2 separate regions of the Homo sapiens genome follow, and region 1 is linked to region 2. The links come from fine-mapping of genetic effects on gene expression. A gene starts in region 2. The other region holds a variant in brackets. All regions are shown on one strand. Distances are from middle to middle. Region 1 overlaps CDH13 (cadherin 13). Region 2 holds the start of CDH13 (cadherin 13).

Region 1 (2,905 bases), 430 kb before region 2:
TTGTTTATCAATCAAAGGGGCACTGATAAAACAGAAAATCAGCTTTTTGAGGAGTTGGGAATTTTTGAAGCCATAGAGCTTTTGGGTTATGAGACGTAAAAGTAGGCCGGGTGCGGTGGCTCACGTTTGTAATCCCAGCAATTTGGGAGGCCGAGGCTTGCGGATCACAAGGTCAGGAGATCAAGACCACCCTGGCTAACACGGTGAAACCCCGTCTCTACTCTAAATACAAAAATATTAGCTGGGTGTGCTGGCGGGCACCTGTAGTCCCAGCTACTCGGGAGGCTGAGGCAGGAGAATGGCGAGAACCAGGAGGTGGAGTTTGCAGTGAGCCAAGATCCTGCCACTGCACTCCAGCCTGGGTGACAGAGCGAGACTCCTTCTAAAAAAAAAAAAAAAAAAAACAAACAAAAAAAAAAACAAAGGCAAAAGTCTGGATTAAGAAAGTTAGTGATACAGGGAGGTTTGAGGGATAAGCACCCTGTCTTTAAGCTCTATTGCAGATGTGATGTGTGTCATGGAACCAGAAAGTCAGCCTGCTAGCCTCAGTTTTCTCCTGACTGACTTGTCATGCAACAGCCTGGCTCTACCCAGATTGGTGGCCAAACCGTCTTGTGCCTGCTCTGAATGATGGAATCTCCGAAGAGTTCAATCTCTCATAAGAAACCTAGGCCATGGCAGACACCCGAGCGCCAGTGTTACATCCTTGCAGTCACCTCTGATTTCAGCAGCAGCTGCACTGGACAGTTCTTTTTGAGCACACACTCACCTGGCTCTCCCAGAGTTCAACCTAAGCTTACATGACTGCAAATCATCCTGCCCCAGATCTCTGACACATACAGGAACTTGTTCTAAACAGAAGGCAGTTAACACCCGCTCTCCCTGCTCCCAGGCAACTCTCAATCCATGGACAGTAGGGAGACTAGGAAAAAAGGCTCCAGTCCCTCTATTTTTCAGGTGGATGACTCTGAGAATTCTGAAAAGCATTTCATAGGGTTCCCAGAGGATCTGGGAGAATTGAAGAAATGAAGCCCCTGTGTACAGAAGCAACCTCAGAAATGCTCTTTTTTGATTGGCCTCCTTCCTCTTCTCAATGTCCCCATGAACTCACTTCTGCTTCCTGGGACCACCTCTCAGATCAAGTTCCTGCACCTGACCACTTGTCCTGGGCTTTTCTTCCCGGGAATCTCCAACTAAGGCAGATACAGTAAAACCGGGACATCCATCTTTGAATGAGAATGGATTAGATTTGCACATAACAAGAGGTTCCACCAGTTAAGAAGATTAAAAAAAGCAAAGCAAAGCAAGAAAATATCCTTGCAAAGCCTTGTTAGAGTCCTGGAAGAGAGATAATCTCATCACCAGATAGTTTCTGTGAGGTCAGCGTGTGTCAGCAGTAATTCTTTCTCTCAGACTGCACGTTTGTTTTTAAGACCATCCCAGATGCTGACTTCAAAAGCTTTCTAGTTTGTAATGCACTACATAAGACTCTTCTGTTTTCTTTCCTAAATATTTAGTTCTATTTACACAGGAGACACTTACACCACAACATCAGTATGGGAACATCATTAATGTTTTCTTCCTGTGTGGTCAGGGGAGCTCAGGAGTGGAGATTGGCCCCTAAAGTCCAGCCCTCACCAGCTATGCCATCTCTTGGCAACATGGTTGGAATTTGGACAAGAGCATTTGTTAGAATAAACGACGCCCCTGTCATCAGTGAGGTCACAAGAATGCATCTGTTGGGAAAAGGGGAAATGAATTATTTGGTA[C/T]CCCCATGTTGAAACATAGGAACACCAAACCGCCAGAGAAGAACAAACACTTTTCTTGAAGAATTGGCCAGCGGCACACGCAGAAAACCCCACTTGAACAAAACGTGGAGGCGCTGCTACCTGGGCCTCTTTATTTGATGAGTGCAGCGAAATCCAGTTTTTCCCCAGTAACCAACAAAGATGAGAATAGAAAAAGCTTCTGAGAGTTCTGCCATCTCCCCTCACAAAGGAGAGGGGCTAAGGTCACACCCCAAGCCCGATAAAAGACGTAACTCATGAAGTTCAACAAACTAACTTTGTATTTAGAGCTAAAGAATGACATTTAACGATTTATATTTTTAAGAATATAGTGAAGATTTCATAGTTTTAGAAGTAAATATTCTTACTTTTGAAAGTAAAGTTGCTGTGAGTCATGATAATCCAAGACATGATTATCTTTGTTTTATTTTATTTTTTTAAAAAATATCATTTGTAAGACATTTCCCCGACCCCATTTTAATGCCTTCAAAATTAGGGAGGAACCTTACCATTGATGTTAAGGAATTACTGTGTGCAGGTTTAAGCGTCAGCATTTTTCTTTCTTAGTACCATAAAAAATACAAGTGTGCTGGAAGCACACTCTGGTCTTAACATCTACCCTCACCCCTTTTCTGGAGTGGGAGGTGATCTTATCTTAGACGGTTTAAAATTAGTATTGTCAAGTCTTAAGAATATTCAAGACAGCTCAGGTCAAAGGGAATGGCCAGGAAGAAAGGCTAGAAACTGGTTTATAGATGGTTTTGTGTGTCATGCTAAGGATTTAGCCTTACAGCCTCAGTGGTGAGCCTTTTTTTTTTTTTAACAATAGAAAGTGGCAGTAAAAGATACTTGCTAACTCAATAAAAGCGGGAGTCATCCAATTACTACTTTTGAAAAAAACTTACTTTTAACTTTCTAATTAAAGCATAACATGTATCATTCATATATTAAACTGCAAAAGTGTAAGTGTACAGTTTGGTGAATTTTTTTTGAGTGAACACACCTATGTCACCACCATAAAGATGAAGACATACAACTCTGTCATGATCTCAGAAACCTCCCTCAGGCCCCTTCCAGTCATCACCTTTTCAAAGGTAACCACAAGTATTAGTCTGTTC
Region 2 (2,905 bases):
GCTATAACTGGGCAGTCCTTAATCGGGACTGTATATCCAAGAAAGAAGTCAGGAGCTTGGGAGCGGGCTCAGCAGCCGGGCACTTGAATCTCCCCTGGTACTATCACCCATCACTGCATTTCTGAGATGTTAGCCCATTTCCAAAGTCTAAACCCAACATTGCTCTAACAGTGGTCTCCCTTAGAAGTCTGCACCAGTCTCCCCATCCCAGACAGTCCCTACCTGGGAACCCAACTCCCTTCCCCTGCCTTTCACCCGCAAACTCTCACCTGAGCCTCTACCCCGGCCAGGAACTCAACACTCATTCCTAGCACCCTGAGGCACTCCCTGTCTCTTTCCCTCCTTACTCTGCCCGGCCCTGCCCTGCCCTGGCTCTTATCCACCCACTTGCAGGCTGCCAGCTCACTCCAAGTCCCAACGCCTGCCAGAGAGGCGATGGGGGACTGGATCGGGGTGCTCTCCGAAACCACAGGCCCCTGAGCAGCGCAGGGCGTGCCCCCCGCAGCGGCCAGCACCCCAGGCCTGGCCTCGGAGCGCTGCTTTCCTGCACTCAAACTTCCCGAAATCTCTGAGGTGCAGAGGTGACTGCAGGCGGACCGCATCTCCCTCGCCCCCTCTCCTGGTTGGCGTGCCCTTCCCTCGCGCCGTGGCGCTCTGAGGGTTAACAAGCAGCTGCAGCCCGGGTGGGCAAGGCTTGAACTTTTCTCTGCGCTCCGCTCCCGCTCAGGGAAGGCAGCAGAGGCGGCAGCCCGGGATCTGGCCGGAGCTCCAGCTGGCTGGACAATAGGGGTGCGGGGGGCTGGGGCCTGCGCCCTGGCGGGGGACACGCTCCGGCCCTTTCGGGCCCGGGGTCTGGGAGCAAAAGGACCCCGATGCGGGTGCGGCCGGCGCCGGCGCCTTTGAGCGACAGCAGCAGCCGGGCTGAGGCTCTCTGCTGCCCCGAGGCGCCTTCCAGCGGGCAGCCGGGCTGTACCAGGGGGCCCGGGCGCCCTGGGAAGTCGGTGGTGCCTGCTCGGCCTCTCCAGCCCCGCATCCCGCAATCCGGACCCGAGCAGCGCTTCGGCCGCTGGGCGTTGGGCTGGGGAAAACCGCGGCTCGTTGGAGTCGCCTCTAACTGAGTCTTTCTCCAATGCACCGAGCCTCCGGAGGAGGGAACCAAAGTTACCCCACTTGATGTGGGCGAGAATGTCGCCCCTGCTAGCAAAAAAGGACTGGGAGCTCTCTCCTCCTCCCGTTAACGAACGTACACACACACACACACACACACACACACACACACACACACACACGCACGCCAGAGTGGGAGCCTGTGTGTGGGGGGTGCCTAGGATCTCTGGGCTCGGAATGACCTCCCTACCGAGCCCCGATCTGTCTTCGCCGCCGCGACCGGAGGCCCCGACCCCCCGAAAGCCCCCTCACCCTGCCCGTGCCGGGCGATCCGAATGCAGAAACGGGGCGCAGAGCGCGCCCGGCAGCCCCTCTTCCCTACCTGGGACAGGAGAACGCACAGAACGAGCGGAGTTCTCGGCTGCATTTTGTCCGACTAGAAGCGCCCGGCGGCGTTTTCATTCATGCACGCGGCTGCACTGAGCATATTTTCCGTGGGAGCCAGGCTTTGAGGAGAGGCTCTGCCTCGCCAGCCAGCCAACTTCCCAAATAGATCAGCAGCAGCATCACGAAAGCATTGGGTAGAGGCTGATGACCAGGACCAATGGCTTTACAAGACGGATTCCTTCCTAACGCTCCCTCGTTTTGCATGGCAGATACGGGGTGAGCACCTCGCGAGGAGCGAGCCCCGCGGAGGTGGCATCCCATTTGCTTCTTTGGACTGTTGGGGCTCAGCCTCACAAATCACGCTGGGCAATGCCAGCTGATTCCACTTTTCCAGAGAATGGAATTGCACGGGGGACTGGCGGCCACTTCCAGCCTAGTGCAAAAAGATTCTCTTTATTAAAATGTTAATAAGATCCACTCTATTTCCAATAAATCAGATAAAATGGCCCCAGCAGTTCCAGCCCTTTCTACGCCTGGCAAGGCTTGGCAGTGGATTTTTTTTTTCTTTTTTCCTTTTTTCCCCCCACTGTGGCCCAAGTCATGATGGTGTTTGGTGCTTCCCTGCCATCTCACAAATCACAAAGATGACAGATCAATTCGAGCTTGCAGAAAAAATTCCATTAAGGGGCAATAGATTTTATTAACTGCTCAGGTGAGAGTCTGACTAGCCACCTACTCCTCAAATGTGCATCTGGCACCAAAGCTGGGATCTGGATCGGAAGGAACTTCTTTTTGTATATGGATGTTACCTTTCAGAAGCTCTGAACTACCTCCAGGTACTCAGAACAGCAGTAGTCACTGCTTAAGGGATTTTATAAATGGGGGGCTTTGGGACTGAGGGTAAGAGGGACATCTAGGTCTGCCTTCCCTAATAGGAATCTAAGAAAATGCAGGGAAGACCTTACTGTATCATTTCCATGCAGCCTTCCCTTAGAAAGAATTTAAGGTGTTTTACAATAAAGGACATTTGTGCAATAGAATTTATGAACCAAAATAGAAAATCTGGGCCAGAAGGAAAAGTTCAGCAAACTGAAATGACAAGCCCAAATTCTAATGTATTTGCTCTGATTTGGATAAGAGCTTCCTGATAGCCAAAGCAATAAAAGAAACATAAGTTACATAGTTTTGTTGTAGAAACATGCATACAATGTCTTTCAGCATTATTTTCCATGGGCTAAATACCGGAATAAATGCATTATGTAACACGTAACATAGCAGGACACTGAGCAATGGACCATGCCAAGATCCAGTGGATGGGGATGTATTTCTAGCATCTGGCACAGGGCCTGGAACATGGAGACAGCAATTAGTGTGTGTTAAAGAAATAGATGGCTAGACTCAATCAAGATGC

The links. PIP is the estimated chance that this variant, and not a neighbour inherited with it, causes the effect.
Region 1: its variant is fine-mapped to the expression of CDH13 in testis (GTEx, PIP 0.98).

What each region holds. Positions count from the first base shown.
Region 1 is chr16:83,057,293-83,060,197 of GRCh38, reverse strand. All of the region lies in intron 3 of CDH13 (cadherin 13), which reads right to left. Among named protein-coding and RNA genes, the nearest start is that of CDH13-AS1, 340 kb to the left of the region's middle. The variant C/T (reference allele first, on the strand shown) is at 1,770.
Region 2 is chr16:82,625,722-82,628,626 of GRCh38, reverse strand. CDH13 (cadherin 13) reads right to left here and starts at 1,658. Exons shown (of 14, transcript NM_001257.5): 1 at 1,490-1,658. The coding sequence starts at 1,534.